Linked DNA regions of Homo sapiens. The protein of the gene in region 2 interacts with the protein of the main gene of each other region in a pairwise test. Each region holds a gene or a part of one and is shown on either strand. Other genes may lie near its edges.

Region 1 (3,840 bases), on a different chromosome or scaffold from region 2:
GTGGAGCCGATGTTTGCTTTGTGTTTCTTATTGTGGTTCCTTGTTTCAAAATGATCACAGGATCCCAAAGGCTACAGAACAAACAATCCCCAACATATCTTCCTTTAGGCTCCTGTGTCTTCAACCGGGAGTGTGTTAACGGAGGAAGAAAATGTGATACTACTTCTAGTGTTGTCTCTACAACTTGTCTAAGATCCAAAATGCAAATTCCCAACTTTCCCTGTTATCAGCAGACTGACCTGGAACAGGGTGATCCTTCAGGTGGGATGAGGTATATTAGGTCTGGAATGCTAAATTATTCACCGTTCTGCCCTCTGAGGAGGAGAAGGGAATGAGAAGGGGAGAGGGTTGCTATGAACGAACCCTTAATATCAGATCCAGAGTGGCTCACCCACACAGCCATGCCCGCGTTCTGTGGGTGCTCGAGTCTCAGCCTTTTAGATATTCAGTCCCTAAAACGGCGACTACACACAGATACACCTTCGCATATTTAAAGTGTGGGATTCACATATCCCATCCTGTTTCTTCAAATCAGGTATGCTCTTGTGAGCGTACATCCTGTTCTTATAAATAGCCCCACGGTGACCAGTGCAATGCACAGAATGGAAAAATATTTGGAAATTCACCAAGCTCTAATCTCAAAATAAGAGAATGATCAAAACTGCAGGGCATGTGAAGACTGAATAAGACTTCATTGACTCTTAGGGTAATTGTTATACAATGACCCAAATGGGGCAGTAGATACTATTTTTTAGGAACTGGCATACAATATATGTAGGGAAAAAAATCCCTGTGAGTCTTCTTGGGTTCTCCCCACAGAAGGTGGACAATCCCGGCCAGTATTTGTGGCAATTTCCCCCACTCTTCCTCTGACAGAGGAACAGCCTGCCCAGCTTCTGCTCTTCCTTCCGCAGAAGGACTCGGCGCTTTGCTGTGCTGAGAGGCTAAACTCACTTTCTTTCTGAGGCAGCAGAAGCCATCTCCATGGAAACAAAGCTCTCGCAGAGCTCCCGAAGAGTGGGAATAACTTCCAAGATTTCCCGTAATTTCTTGTAGAGGAACTTGTGGCAGTTTTTTTTGTTTGTTTGTTTTGTTTTTTTCAGACGGAGTCTTGCTCTGTCCCCCAGGCTGGAGTGCAGTGGCGCGATCTCGGCTCACTGCAAGCTCCACCTCCCTGATTCAGGCCATTCTCCAGCCTCAGCCTCCCGAGTAGCTGGGACTATAGGCACCCGCCACCACACCTGGCTAATGTTTTTGTATTTTTAGTAGAGACGGGGTTTCACCGTGTTAGCCAGGATGGTCTCAATCTCCTGACCTCACGATCCACCTGCCTCGGCCTCCCAAAGTGCTGGGATTACAGGTGTGAGCCACCGCGCCCAGCTGTGGCTGTTTTTGCTGTGCTTGGAGAACAAACCACAGAGCAGTCTCCTCTGGAATGTATTCGGTGGGTGCCTGTGTGTGTGTGTGTGTGTGTGTGTGTGTGTGTGTGTGTGTTGTAATCACTGTGCTGTATCGGAAATATTCTAAGTCCTGGAAGTACCGATTTAAAAGTTCACACAATAAATGCAGCTAGGAAATGTTAGTACTTTTCTTAATCCACTAAGAAATATCCCCACTTACGTTTGGAGGGTGTTCATGTGGTTTCATGTGTTGTTACCTGTATGTATAATTTTAATGATTCAAGTTATTTAGATCCATATGCAGGAAACAGAACCCAGACAAGGCAGTGATAACACTGGCCACATTCACACTCTCTTAGGCTGGTTCTTTGAGCGGTGTGATCAAACGTGAAAGCTCAGTGTTCTGTAGAGGCAGGCTGGTGCTGGGAGGCACCCACTACTTCAGCATGAGAATGCTGGTTCTTCGTTCGGGATAGAGCAGGTTAGTGATACAGGATGGGGGCAGGAAAGTCCTGGGTGGAGAAGAACGGGGTCCCTGGCTAGGGCTCGACCCCTGGGCCTGTGCCCATGGACCTACGCATTTCTGCTTTTGTGCCCAAATGTTGCATTTCCCAAGACCACCGTGGCCTGCCACACTCCCATCCTATGCCTATAAAAACCCCAAGACCCTAGCGGGCAGAGACCAAGCGGCTGGATGTCGAGAAGAACACACCGGCAGAAGAGCACACCAGCAGACACAGCAGACGCCAGCAGGCCATCGACTGGCGGAATGACACGGAGTTTGCTTGGGGTGGTCAGGGGAGAGCCCGGTCACTGGGCAGCCCAACTCCCAAGGGGAAAACTGCCTTCCCACTCCATCTCCCTTCTGGCTCCCCCATCTGCTGACAGGTATCACCACTCAATAAAAAACCTTGCACCCATCCTCCAAGCCCATGTGTGATCTGATTTTTCAGGTACACCAAGGCAAGAACCCAGGATACAGAAAGCCCTCTGTCCTTGTGATAAGGCAGAGGGTCTAATTGAGCTGATAAACACAAGCTGCCTACGGAGGGGTAAACTGAAAGAGCTCCCGCACTGTAACACACACCCTCTGGGGCTTCAGCTGGAAACATTCACCCCCAGACACTGCCGTGGGGTCAGAGCCCCATAGCCTGCCGGTCTGTACACTCCCCTAGAGGTTTGAGCAGTGGGGAACCAAAGAAGCGAGCCACACCCCCATCGCACACCCTGCGAGGGGGACAAGGGAACTTTTCCCGTTTCAACAGGTCTCTATTGCATTCTACACAGCTGTCCTAGAGGATGAACAGAAGGACACCAGGCTACTGAGCTGGCTCTGGAGTCACCCTGGGTTCAAATCCCAGCTCTACGTTCTCCAGCCCGTGGCCACGATGGGGTTAGTAATAGGATCCATTTCATAGGGTCGTCATAGAGAGTAAGACCGTAAAGCTCCGTACCTAGCCCATGTAAAGTCCACAGTAAGGGTTTGCTGCTGTTGTCCTGAGACATCATGAGATGTCTTAGAATTCTGGACTTGAGACACACGGCCTGGGGGCGGCAATGCTTCTGTCTGCTGGAGTGCCAGGTGAGAGGCCTGATGTATCCAGTTCTTATTAATCATTACTTACGGGAAATGGAGTTGATGGAAAGATAGCAACCCCTCCCACCACCCGGAGCGTGAGTGATACCGCGTCATTCAGCAATAAAGCCCACATCTTTATGGGGACGCTATTTTTACATAACGCAAACGGTACAAAAACATAAATGCGCTTTTGGTACCAGAGTGTGCGATTCTTGCCCCGCGTGTGGGGACGCTGCAGATTTCTTCCTGGCTTTCCACCGCTGCAGCTGCAGAGCTCTCAGCTTTTCTCGGAGCTCCATGTTCTGCTCCCTCAAAGCATCTATATGACTCCGGAGTTTTCCATGAACATCAGCCCACAGAGACTTCTGTCTCCCAAGCTCTTGGTGGAGTCTGATGATCTGCTGCTGTAATGGCTGTTATTGGGAAGAGAACACCAGAAAAACCTCTCAGATGTCACAATGGGCACATTTATCTGCAAAATACTCAAGCCCTCTCTGATGTAAGACCAACACTATTTCTGGAATAAAAGACACCCGATGAGATAAACAGGACTACCACAGCCTTTTTCTTTCTTCTTTCTTTCCTTTCTTTCTTTCTTTTCTTTTCTTTTTTCAGGGTCTCACTCAGTCACTCAGGCTGGAGTGCAGTGGCATGATCTCAGCTCACTGAAGCTTCAACTTGATGAGCTCAAGCGATCCTCCTGTCTCGACCTCCCAAATAGCTGGGACTACAGGCATGTGCCACCATACTTCGCTAATTTTTGTATTTTTACTCGGGATGGGGGTTCACCATGTTGCCCAGACTGGTCTCAAACTCCTGGGCTCAAGCAATCCACCTGCCTCGGCCTCCCAAAGTGCTGGG
Region 2 (4,180 bases):
AAACCACCATCAGAGTGAACAGGCAACCTACAGGATGGGAGAAAATTTTTGCAACCTACTCATCTGACAAAGGGCTAATATCCAGAATCTACAACGAACTCAAACAAATTTACAAGAAAAAAACAAACAACCCCATCAAAAAGTGGGCGAAGGATATGAACAGACACTTCTCAAAAGAAGACATTTACATAGCCAAAAAACACATAAAAAATGCTCATCATCACTGGCCATCAGGGAAATGCAAATCAAAACCACAATGAGATACCATCTCACACCAGTTAGAATGGCGATCATTAAAAAGTCAGGAAACAACACGTGCTGGAGAGGATGTGGAGAAATACGAACACTTTTACACTGTTGGTGGGAGTGTAAACTAGTTCAACCATTGTGGAAGTCAGTGTGGCAATTCCTCAGGGATCTAGAACTAGAAATACCATTTGACCCAGCCATCCCATTACTGGGTATATACCCAAAGGATTATAAATCATGCTGCTGTAAAGACACATGCACACGTATGTTTATAGTGGCACTATTCACAACAGCAAAGACTTGGAACCAACCTAAATGTCCAACAACGATAGACTGGATTAAGAAAATGTGGCACATATACACCATGGAATACTATGCAGCCATAAAAAATGATGAGTTCATGTCCTTTGTAGGGACATGGATGAAACTGGAAACCATCATTCTCAGCAAACTATTGCAAGGACAAAAAACCAAACACTGCATGTTCTCACTCATAGGTAGGAAATGAACAATGAGAACACATGGACACAGGAAGGGGAACATCACACACCCGGGACTGTTGTGGGGTCAGGGGAGGGTGGAGGGATAGCATTAAGAGATATACCTAATGCTAAATGACGAGTTAATGGGTACAGCACACCAACATGGTACATGTATACATATGTAACAAACCTGCACGTTGTGCACATGTACCCTAAAACTTAAAAGTATAATAATAATAAAATGTAAAAAAAAAAGAATTAAAAAAAAAGAAAGAAAAATAAAACATAAATAAAATAAAATAAACTTATGTTCCTTTGCTAAAAATGTATCCTTTGAGCTAATCCCAGCAAAATATAAGTTGTGTAAGATTTGGGTGTCAGAGACCCGTTTCTCAACAAGACTCAAACAAACTCTGCCAGACTAATTCAAACAGAACAAAGGAAGTGCTAATGAAAGATACAAGCAGGCTGGTCATGGTGGCCCATGCCTGTAGTCCCAGCACTTTGGGAAAGCGAAGTGCGCAGATCGCTTGAACCCAGGAATTTGAGACCATGCACGGCCAACATAGCAAAACCCCGTCTCTACAAAAAAGTTTTTAAAAAACTAGCCAGGTATGGTGGCGTGCACCTGTAGTCTGAGCTACCTGGGAGGCTGAGGTGGGAAGATCACTTGAGTGAACCCAGGAGAGGAAGACTGCAGTGAGACAAAATCACGCCATTGCACACTCCTGCCTGGGTGACAGAGTGAGACCCTGTGGGGCGTGAGAGGAAGGGGGAGAGGGAAGAGGGGGGGGAAAGGGAAGGGAAGGGAAAGGAAGGGAAGGGAAGGGAAGGGAAGGGAAGGGAAAGGAAGGGAAGGAAAGGGAAAGGAAGAAGAAAGGAAAGGAAGGAAGGAAGCAAGCAAAAAAGCTACAAGCAAAGCTCAATAGGTGCTCAGAAAATAGATTGTAAACTGAGCCTAGGAGAACGTGTAGAGTTTTAACAGGCTGAGAAAGGCTAAGAAAATAAATGAGCAAAGGCCCAGGGATAAAAGGGCAGTAGGAACAGAGTGAGTGTAGGAAGTGGTAGAAGAGAAGCCTAGTTCTATAATATCCAGTACCTTACAAACATGAAGTAAAAAAGGCCTGGTTTAGTGATTCCCTGAATTAGGTGCTTCCCTGCATAAGGACAGTTACCTGTAGCAGCTCTTTAGCTGAACCTCTCTTCTCCACATCCATCTCGAGACAGCGGTTCAGAAAGTCCCGGAAGATAGCTGACAGCTTCTCTGGGTTCTGAAGTTCTGGGGTCCCATTGGTGGCAATGAGGTACAAGGCCTGGCAATAAAAATGGTGAATCACCTTGAGCTCCAAATGAGGCTCTCTCTTGTTCCCCATATACAAGTTCTAGAAATATGGTCAGCTGCTTTATGCTCTAGGATGCAAAGTAGCAGCTGTGTATATATACTGGAAAGAGTATGACCTAAGGATCAGGTTGAACATTTAAAGGCCATGGGACTATGTACAACTTCCCTGTCTGTAAAGTAGGGATGATGATAATGCCCATCTCACATGTCTGTAAAAATAAAATAAGATAGTGTATTTGAAAGTACTTTGTAAACTTATGAAATATGTTACAGACCTAAGGGTTTATTCTTCTTCTTCTTTTTTTTTTTTTTTTTTTTTGAGATGGAGTCTTGCTCTGTCGCCCAGGCTGGAGTGCAGTGGCACGATCTTGGCTCACTGCAACCTCCACCTCCCAGGTTCAAGCAATTCTCCTGACTCAGCCTCCCAAGTAGCTGGGATTACAGGCACCAGCCACTACACCCGACTGCTTTTCGTATTTTCAGTAGAGACGGGGTTTTACCATGTTGGCCTGGCTGGTCTCAAACTCCTAGACTCAAGTGATCCTCCTGCCTCAACCTCCCAAAGTGCTGGGATTACAGGCGTGAGTCACTGTGCCTGGCTTTATTATTATTCTTGCTTACACATCTGAAGGGTTTATTATCCATTTAGCCTGTTGAGTTAAACATCTGCCCAGCTGCTGGCAGAAATTATTCCTGGTGCCTTCACCTCAGTCATCCAAGAACTGATCTCTTCTAGCAGGAAAGGAATATTAAATGTAAGTGAAAACTGTTGCCACCCTAGTCCCCTAAATGAAGCGTCTCCTGGGAAAGGTAAAGAAAAACAGTAAGACTAAATCTTTACAAGCACTCAGCACTTAATTCAAAGAGTACTTACATAAGCACTGTCTAATTTAATGGCCACAATTAACTCTGGGTAATAGGGCAAGACTTATCATCTTCACTTCACAGATAGGGTCCGGAAACATAAAAAGATATGTCTAGGGCCGGGCGTGGTGGCTCACTCCTGTAATCCCAGCACTTTGGGAGGCTGAGGTGGGTGGATCACCTGAGGTCAGGAGTTCGAGACCATCGAGAACAGCCTGACCAATATGGCGAAATGTGGTCTCTACTAAAAATACAAAACTTAGCTGGGCATGGTGGCAGGTGCCTGTAATCCCAGCTACTCAGGAGGCTGAGGCAGGAGAATCGCTTGAACCTGGGAGGTGGAGGTTGCGGTGAGCTGAGATCACACCATTGCACTCCAGCCTAGGTGACAGAGTGAGACTCCATCTCAAAAAAAAAAATAAAATAAAAATAAAAAAATAAAAAAATATGCCTATGTCTAGGATCATTCTGTCTTATTTCCAACATATCCCAGCAATTATCATCTTCAAATATCTGCAAGGCCGTTCTAAGGGAGGGAAGAGTATGTTGTATGTGGAGTCAGAGGCAAAGCTGGGATCAAAGGATAGAAACTACAGAAGGTAGTTTCAGTTTGGTGCACTGAAGCAATTTCCAATAATCAGAGATATTCAAGGATGACATGAGCATGTAGATGACCACCTACCAGCAACAGTGCACAGGGAATTCCTGCACTGGATGGGAGGTGGGAATAAATGAGAAAATAAAAGCAATCAGAATAAATTTCACATTTGCCCACACCAAGATTACCAACCTATTTGCACCTGTGTTGAGATGCTCTGTTACAAGGGATAAATTGTCCATGCTAATCTAATGTCCTTTACTTCAGTACTTGATCGAACCCCTCTCATCGACTTAAGGATATCACTTCTATGGTTGTCACTTCCTTCTTGTACATGACCATTTTCCTCCTCTCCACTAAATCATTCCCATTAGCACACAGACATCATCTTTTAGAAAAACCCTCCCTTGACTCCATTTTAAGATAGTGCTCCATTTTTGTTACCCTTCCCAGCAAAATTCCTTTAAGAGAAAAAAAAACCTGTTTATACATGCCATCTCAATGTCCTCTTCTTCCACTTTCATGAATTTAATTAGACTTTCATCCCCATCTCTCTACTGATAACTGATTATTAAGGTCATTAAGAACCTCTACATTGGCAAATCCAATGTTCATTTCTCAGTCTCATCTTAACCTATCAATCAC
Region 3 (3,840 bases), on a different chromosome or scaffold from region 2:
GTGTCTCCTCCTGGGGGATGAGGGCGGGGGCCGGTGAGGGGGGCCAGGCCAGGCGTGGGGACCCTCCCCAAGGTTCCATCACCAGAGGAAGCAGCAGTACAACCTCCTCCGCGGGGTGGGGGCAGGCAGGCTGCTCCTCAGGACCCCACCCCAGCGTCCTGCAACCACCTAGCCTGACTCTTGTTAAATGTTAAGGCTTTGATACATCTTCTGAAACCCACCCAGAGAGGGGATCTGTGCAGTCCTCTACCCTAGATCAGCGGGGCTCCACCTCTATGGGGGGGTCACAGACCCCACTGAAAATCTAACCAACTGCAGGCCCTCTTCCCTGCCCCCAATAAGGCACAAAAGGAAATTCCTGGAGCGGTTCAGAGGCACCGGCGAGGGCACCAGGGAGGGAGCTCGTCATCTGGACGGCCATCAAGCCACCCTGGTGGCCACCAAGCTCCTTCCTGGGGTCTCCTCTGTGCGGTGGACACGTCACAGGTCTGGGTGAGGCTGCTGTGTGGGAGTGGGAAGGGGCTTCCCAGGCCTTGATGCCCTCTGGGGCCCAGTCTCTGTGGGGCCATGCTGCCACGGACTGGGGAGCGCCTGGGCCAACATGCCCCGGTGCCCAGGCCCGCTGTGTGCCCTCACCCAGGAGGGAGAGACGCCTGAGCCTGACATGCCAAGGGGGCAGCAGGAGTTGGGGGCGGGGGTGGGGGTTCTGGCGGCAGGGAGGTGGGGGTGTCTGCACCTGTGCCCTGAGCACCCAGGGGAAACCAACAGCAGCTGCAGGGCCAGGAGCTGCAGGGCCAGGATGAGGGCTGGGGGTGGCTCCCCTTGGATATAGTCCTGAGACTTCTTCCTCTGAGCCTTGAGGTCCTTGGCCTTGGTGAACACACCAAGAGGCCCCGCCCCGCAGGGAGCTGCCGCCACGCGTGTTCTGGCTCAATCTGCACCACCTGCGTCACCACATTCCCATCCCCACCCCCGCCTGGTGACAGCTGGGGACAGAAGGTGAGGTCCAGGTGACGGTGACACAGCAGTGGCAGCAGCAGCGTTCCCCACGCCAGGCTGTGTGCCCCGCCATGACTGCCGCCCAGGAGGGTAGGGCTGGGTCTGAGGGGCGAGCCGCCGTGTCCTGACAGCTGGACCTGCACTTGGAAGGGCTCCATAAACGGGGGCTGAAGGAAGGCAGGAGCACTAACGAGGTGCCCGCATCATGCGGGTGGGGCCCACATGCGGGCCCAGCGACCCTCGAGACCCTGTGGGTCAGGCCCTTGTGTCCCTGCGCCCCGTGGGTTTGGCCCTCACTTCTCTGTGGATTCAGCCCTCACGTCTCCCCTGGCATCCCAGCCTCGCGCTCACCCTGTTGTTCTGCATATCTTTGTTAGCCCCGTTCTTCAGGAGCACAACTGCGGCATCCACATTGTTCACGGCGGCGGCCCAGTGCAGGGCGGACTTGCCTGCGTGAAAGAAGCAGATGGGGTAGGTTGGAGACCAGCTGGAGGCAACCCAGTCCCACCCGTCCCTGTGGCGGTCCCGCCCCACGACAGAGCAGCCGTGCCCCCGTGGGCTCACCCAGGTCATCTACGGCGTTGACGTCGGCGTGTGAGTTGATGAGGTCCTCCAGCATGCCCTCCACGGCCAGGCGGGCAGCCAGGATCAGTGGCGTCGTGCCATCATGCATGCGGGCATCCAGGTCTGTGGCTCGGTTCCGGATCAGGATCTGGGCAACAGGGAGAGGCTCAGGCGGGTGCTGGGCAGACGTACACCGATGCCTCCTGCCCAGAACGAACGCCTGGACGGGAAGCCCCACTGTCTTCCGGACACAGACGAGACCCTCCTGAGATCGGCACGGCCGGGCAAGACGAAACGCCATGGGGCTGCCCCTGAGGAGGGGCCCGGATGGGGGCAGGGGCTGTGCTGCCCACAGACAGGCCCCTTGGTGACAGTGGGATCCATCGTGACCACGTGTGGCCTCATTTAATCCTCACTGTGGTCCTAGCTGCCATGACCACCTACAAAACAGAGAGGTCAAGTCCCTGCCCCCAACGGCGGTTACAGCTGGCACTCAGGAAGCCGGGCTCACGGCCCTACAGCCGTCTCAGAACCGCCGAGCTAGTGTCCGGCTCTGCCCAGAGAGGGGGTGGGCAGCCCTTGTAATGCAGCCGGGTCTTGGCATCTGGCAGGAGGAATGGCCCCTGCTCACTGGCGGGTGCAAAAGGCAACTTGGCCTGATTCCTGCAAAGCACCTGGGAACTTCCACATCTGTGCAAAGAAGGCAGCTGAGAGAGGCACACACCAAACCCGCACGGGGCTCCCTTCCACGCTCTTTCTGCTCACCTACATTTATTTCTGCGAGATGACAATGTGTCACCTGAGCTAAGAAATCAGGAAATGAGAAGCTCTGTGGTAACTCCCCGGGCTGTGCCCATCTGAACCTGCTTGCTCCAGGGCCGCCTGGAGCCTGGGGACTCGCAGCAGGGGTGACTGCAAAGGCAGCCCCTGCCAGGGACACTCCCTGGAGACCCAGGCATCCAAATCCCTAAATCCATTCTTGCCACGAGCTCACCGGCAAGCTGAGCCCTAGGTCTGCAGGCACCGAGCGGCAGCCTCTAAACCCTGCTTCTCACTGCCACAGGCTACGCCGGCAGCCAAGGTTGAGGGAGGGGCGGGGCTGCGAGGGGCTGCAGCAGTGGAACCTGGACCTTGAGCAAGGCCCACAACCCTGATGGAGCCTGTTTTGCTGGGGGTGGGGAGGTGCTGCCTCACTCAGCAGATCCCCCAGGCCTCCTGCCAGACCCGCCTCTGCCTGACTTCCCTGGAGAACACAGATGGGCCCGACGCCCTCCCCCTCGCACCTCGCTGACTGCGAAGGTCCCAGGTGGAGGCACCAGTTGTCCCGGACTCAGCTGTGCTCGGGGTCAGGCTCCCAGGGCCACGTAAGCCTGGCCACTGCCCCAGACCACCAGGCGGCCCTGAGGAGGGCAGGTGGGCACACAGGCAGCCACTGCCTACCTGGAAGACACCTTGTGCGTCGGCAGACACAGCCGCATGCAGCGGGGTGCGGCCCATGTTGTCCTGGATGTTGGCATCTGCGCTGGCCTCCAGCAGGCGCTTGGCGGCATCAGAGCGTGAGTAGCGGGCGGCCAGGTGCAAGGCGGTCTCGCCCGTGCGGTCTGTCTGGTTGTGCAGGCTGGCGCCCTGGTAGATGAAGTCGGAGATGACGGCCGGCGCGTCCTCCTCTTCCTCGCTGTTGCCCGTCTCCAGGCCGCCCCCGCTGCAGGAGGCGATCATGAGCGGGGTGAAGCCATCTGCAGAGGCAGAGACGGGTGCTCAGTCTGGAGGGCCGGTCCCCAGCTGCAGCCCAGGGGGAGGGGGGCAGCAGCCCCAAGCTCAAGGGGCCACGGTGTGGATGCACCACCCAGCACTTGGTGGCCCCGTGCACACAGCCACCAAGGGGCAGCTGAAGTCCGCCTGGGCTGCTCAGTGGACAGAGCCGAATCCAGCTTAAACTCCTGGCGGGCAACTGCTTCCTGACCTGCCCAAGACCTGGCACCCAAAATCCACCCAGGAAAAAGAGGACCCCAGAAGCATGCAGTTAGAAAATTAATGCTTCAGCAGGATGCGGAGGCTCACGCTGTCATCCTAGCACTGGGGGAGGCCGAGGTGGGCGGATCACCTGAGGTCAGGAGTTCGAGACCAGCCTGGCCAACATGGTGAAACCCCATCGCTGCTAAAAATACAAAAATTAGCCAGGTGTGGTGGCAGGCGCCTGTAGTCCCAGCTACTGGGGAGGCTGAGGCAGGAGAATTGCTTGAACCCGAGAGGTGGAGGTTGCAGGGAGCCGAGATC
Region 4 (3,446 bases), on a different chromosome or scaffold from region 2:
ACAGTGAGGATCTCATAAAAGTTTTTATACTTTTTACATGTTAATACCAGACTTAATTAAAATACTTAAGGTCTTTTATTATATTTAGTTTCAGGTAAACCTATAGTGGCAGTGTGGCATAGAAAGAGGAATGGACTGGGAATTGAGGAAGCTGATTTCTAATGTTGGTTCTATCATTAATTGACTATTTATTCTTAGGCAGACTTTGTGGTTTTCAGACTTGGATCAGTGTAATAAGTGGGTTTGGACTAGATGATTGTTAAAGAGTCCTTCCAGCTCAAAATTGTATGAGTCTAAGTCCTACCTAGAAAATAAGTTTATAGGTTAGGTAATATAACATATAAAAATATATAATGAAAATTCCTATTAATTCTAGCTGGCAATCCTTTTATTCAAGTTGAAAGCACTTGTAACTTTACATACAGATAAAATAAATTATATAGAAACAGAAATTCCAAATTAAATAACAAAAGTACAAGGATAAAAAGCATTAGCTAAAATTTTTTTAATGGTAAATACTACCTTTATTTAAAAAAGTTATACATGCTAGAAAAAAGCATAAATGATATATGTAAACAATTGTTTACTCAATACTTTTTTTCCTTGAAAAAGGTGCAAATGATCTTTAAATGTAAACACAAAGTTGCCAAACATTTTTGTAGTTGGGGAAAGGGAGAAGGAGGTTATTCCTTTTAAATGCAGTTAGTCTTATTCAAAGATTTTTCTTGCAAAATATATTGAAAAAAATTTGTCTATGAATACAATGAGGAAAAAAAACTTTAACCATTGAAATTATTTTTTCCTTAAAAATTTTTAACTTTTTACCAGAAAGTGCAATTTGAGAGAAGTAGTAACAATGACCTTATAGAATGAAGATAATGATACATTGTTTGTATAAAAGAACCAAGATATTAATAAAATGCCTCAATTGATTTTACACTCTTTAATGTGTGCTATTACATTAACTGAATAATTCATTCCCTTGGAGGCTGTTATTAAAGGTAAGCCTCAGCTTAACCAGGCCTGAGCATCAAGAATAAATTGCATAACAGAATTCACTGCTGGGAGAAGACATTTCTCCCTGCTGGTCCTTGGTAGCAATAAGGAAACAGGAAGGACAGTTGCTTTAGTCAGTAACATTTTTGAGCAAAAACTGTTGCAGAGCTGCATGTGATTCTCTTGGATTCTCAAGACAGCATATGAGACTTATATATTGTTTTTATAAGAGGCACTGAGCAGAGCTCTAGATCTAGCAGAAACTCTATGAGAATATTATGAAAAAAAGACTAAATAAACAAGTTCATATAGAAAGAAACAAGACATAAAATTACACTGATGAAAACTGTAGTGTCTGAGTCCTGGTTTTTATTGATTTAGTATCCCTTCTGAATTGTACTATTTAAAATGAGATGTTGCCTTTTCTTGTTTTTTTGTTTTTTTTTTTTAAGATTTTCAAGTCTTCTGGTGGTTAGTGCGAGAATAATGGGTAGCTAATACATTTTGCATACCTACCTTTATTCCTGGTAATCCTTGTTAGTGGAATCATGTGGATGGAGTGTCTAGAAATAATAGCCAAATCATATATAGCCCTTCTGCCCTTATTAAATAGTATTTTCAAACCTAAATGAATACCTTACAAACAAAGTAAGTTTTGCTGCTTGGAATTTTTTCTTCTTTTCTTTTTTTGTGGGAGGAAGGATAAGTTCAAAACGAAAACAACAAAAAACCATGATAAATTAAAACCAAAAATAAATATTCTTCTGCACAGAGTTGAAAATTATTGTGCATCTTGCAGGTGAAGTACTTTCATTGGATTGTATTTCCATTTGTTGAGGCACCGGCAAATAATAAAATTTGTTCTAATGTTTTCTCAAGCTGTACAAAGCTCCAAGGTCAAAGCTCCCCAGAATACAGAGGAATATATACAAGACTGTCTTCTCTGTGTTCACCAAATATGGGATTCACAATGTGTCATTTTAATAACTCCTACGCCACCCCCTAGCCGACGGTAATTCATCCCGCCATATAACCTGCAAAGAAAGAAACATAATCATATTTTCTAACTGGAAAATATGTTACAACTAAGATGTTATTAACTACGACTAAGATGTTATTAACACGTTTCTATGTTTTATATTACAACTAATATTTTCAGCTTCACACTAATATTGTCTTCATTCTAAAGATTAGAAGCTGCAATTGAGCACTGTTGAGTAGCAGGACTGTTTCAGAGATTGACTGACATGCTCTCACTCATAGGAGGCTGTGTGAAGAATAAGAGAGCATCATATTCACGTTTGGCATCAGAACTTTACAACTGTATACCTCACTGACTTCTAACGGTTACACAGAATTATATATTCTACATTTTCAAAATTTTGCCCCTGGCTATATTATTGTCCCACCTATGTTTTCCCTTTGCCTAAAATTCTTCAATTATTTATTTTTATCCCTTTGTCTTATATGTACTCTGTAAGCCTCTTCAAGTCCTTTATAGAACAAAACCAGATTTGAGTAAAGTCAGCATCTAGTTTGTGACAAGATCATCTTCAAAATTAAGGACTTTCCATGGAGAAGAATACTAGACCCTTATCAGCTATGAGGTAGAGTTGGTTTTTAAGTCTTGGATATGTAACTGCAAATATTTAGTTATTAATCTTTCAACAGATGATCCTCAATAATTTCATGACTATTACTTTGTCATCTATTACTAATTCTATTTAGTGACAGTTACTAAGAAACAAGTCCTCAGATAAGATTATAGTGATTAAGTGACAGTAAATTTGGCTGTCTTCAGAAATTATGCTTAATCAAAATTCCTAGTAAAAATAGAAAGCTGTATATGGAAGAAAATATCCTGCCAGTGAGAGGCCCAAAGCTGCCATTACCTATCCTTTACCGTATTTAGGTTTTGCTAAAATGCTACCTTTCCAATGAGGCCTTCCCTGAACACCTTTAAAAACAGATTCCCCTCCCTGTACTCCCTAGCCCCCTCCCCTGCTTTGATATTTGCCACAGCACTTCCATCTACTGGTATGGTACTGTTTGTCTCCCTCAATACAATTGGTTAGCTCCAGCAGGGCAAGGAACTTTTTTGTTGTTTTGTTTTGTTTTGAGACGGAGTCTTGCTCTTCCACTCAGGCTAGAGTGCAGTGGTGTGATCTCGGCTCACTGCAACCTCCACCTTCTGGGTTCAAGAGATTCTCATGCCTCAGCCTCCCTAGTAGCTGGGATTACAGGCGTGCGCTTGGCAGGAATTTTTGTTGTTGTTGTTCAGTTTTGTATCCCCAGGGCTCGGAGCACTTAGTAAATCTTTTTTTTTTTTTGAGACGGAGTCTTGCTCTGTCACCCAGGCTGCAGTGCAATGGCCCAATCTCTGCTCACTGCAACCTCTGACCCCAGGTTCAAGTGATTCTCCTGCCTCAGCCTCCCAAGTAGCTGGGATT

Evidence for each region. Proteins that work in one complex are often made in the same cells at the same time.
Region 1: the proteins of PAK1 (region 2) and TCP10L interact in binary tests that used the Homo sapiens proteins (3 or more experiments, as listed by UniProt).
Region 3: the proteins of PAK1 (region 2) and NOTCH1 interact in binary tests that used the Homo sapiens proteins (3 or more experiments, as listed by UniProt).
Region 4: the proteins of PAK1 (region 2) and KLHL20 interact in binary tests that used the Homo sapiens proteins (3 or more experiments, as listed by UniProt).

The regions. Positions count from the first base shown.
Region 1 is NC_000021.9:32,579,024-32,582,863, forward strand, and holds part of TCP10L (T-complex protein 10A homolog 1), read right to left. Parts: intron 3,393-3,840; coding exon 3,177-3,392; intron 1-3,176. Other genes in the region: CFAP298-TCP10L (uncharacterized protein LOC110091775), read right to left, coding at 3,177-3,392. UniProt on the Homo sapiens protein: May be involved in transcriptional regulation. Has in vitro transcription inhibition activity. Acts as a tumor suppressor in hepatocellular carcinoma (HCC) cells.
Region 2 is NC_000011.10:77,330,824-77,335,003, forward strand, and holds part of PAK1 (serine/threonine-protein kinase PAK 1), read right to left. Parts: intron 2,045-4,180; coding exon 1,907-2,044; intron 1-1,906. UniProt on the Homo sapiens protein: Protein kinase involved in intracellular signaling pathways downstream of integrins and receptor-type kinases that plays an important role in cytoskeleton dynamics, in cell adhesion, migration, proliferation, apoptosis, mitosis, and in vesicle-mediated transport processes.
Region 3 is NC_000009.12:136,497,549-136,501,388, forward strand, and holds part of NOTCH1 (neurogenic locus notch homolog protein 1 preproprotein), read right to left. Parts: intron 3,300-3,840; coding exon 3,004-3,299; intron 1,712-3,003; coding exon 1,564-1,711; intron 1,449-1,563; coding exon 1,351-1,448; intron 11-1,350; coding exon 1-10. UniProt on the Homo sapiens protein: Functions as a receptor for membrane-bound ligands Jagged-1 (JAG1), Jagged-2 (JAG2) and Delta-1 (DLL1) to regulate cell-fate determination.
Region 4 is NC_000001.11:173,783,747-173,787,192, reverse strand, and holds the end of KLHL20 (kelch-like protein 20), read right to left. Parts: intron 2,031-3,446; coding exon 1,946-2,030; 3' UTR 501-1,945; downstream 1-500. UniProt on the Homo sapiens protein: Substrate-specific adapter of a BCR (BTB-CUL3-RBX1) E3 ubiquitin-protein ligase complex involved in interferon response and anterograde Golgi to endosome transport.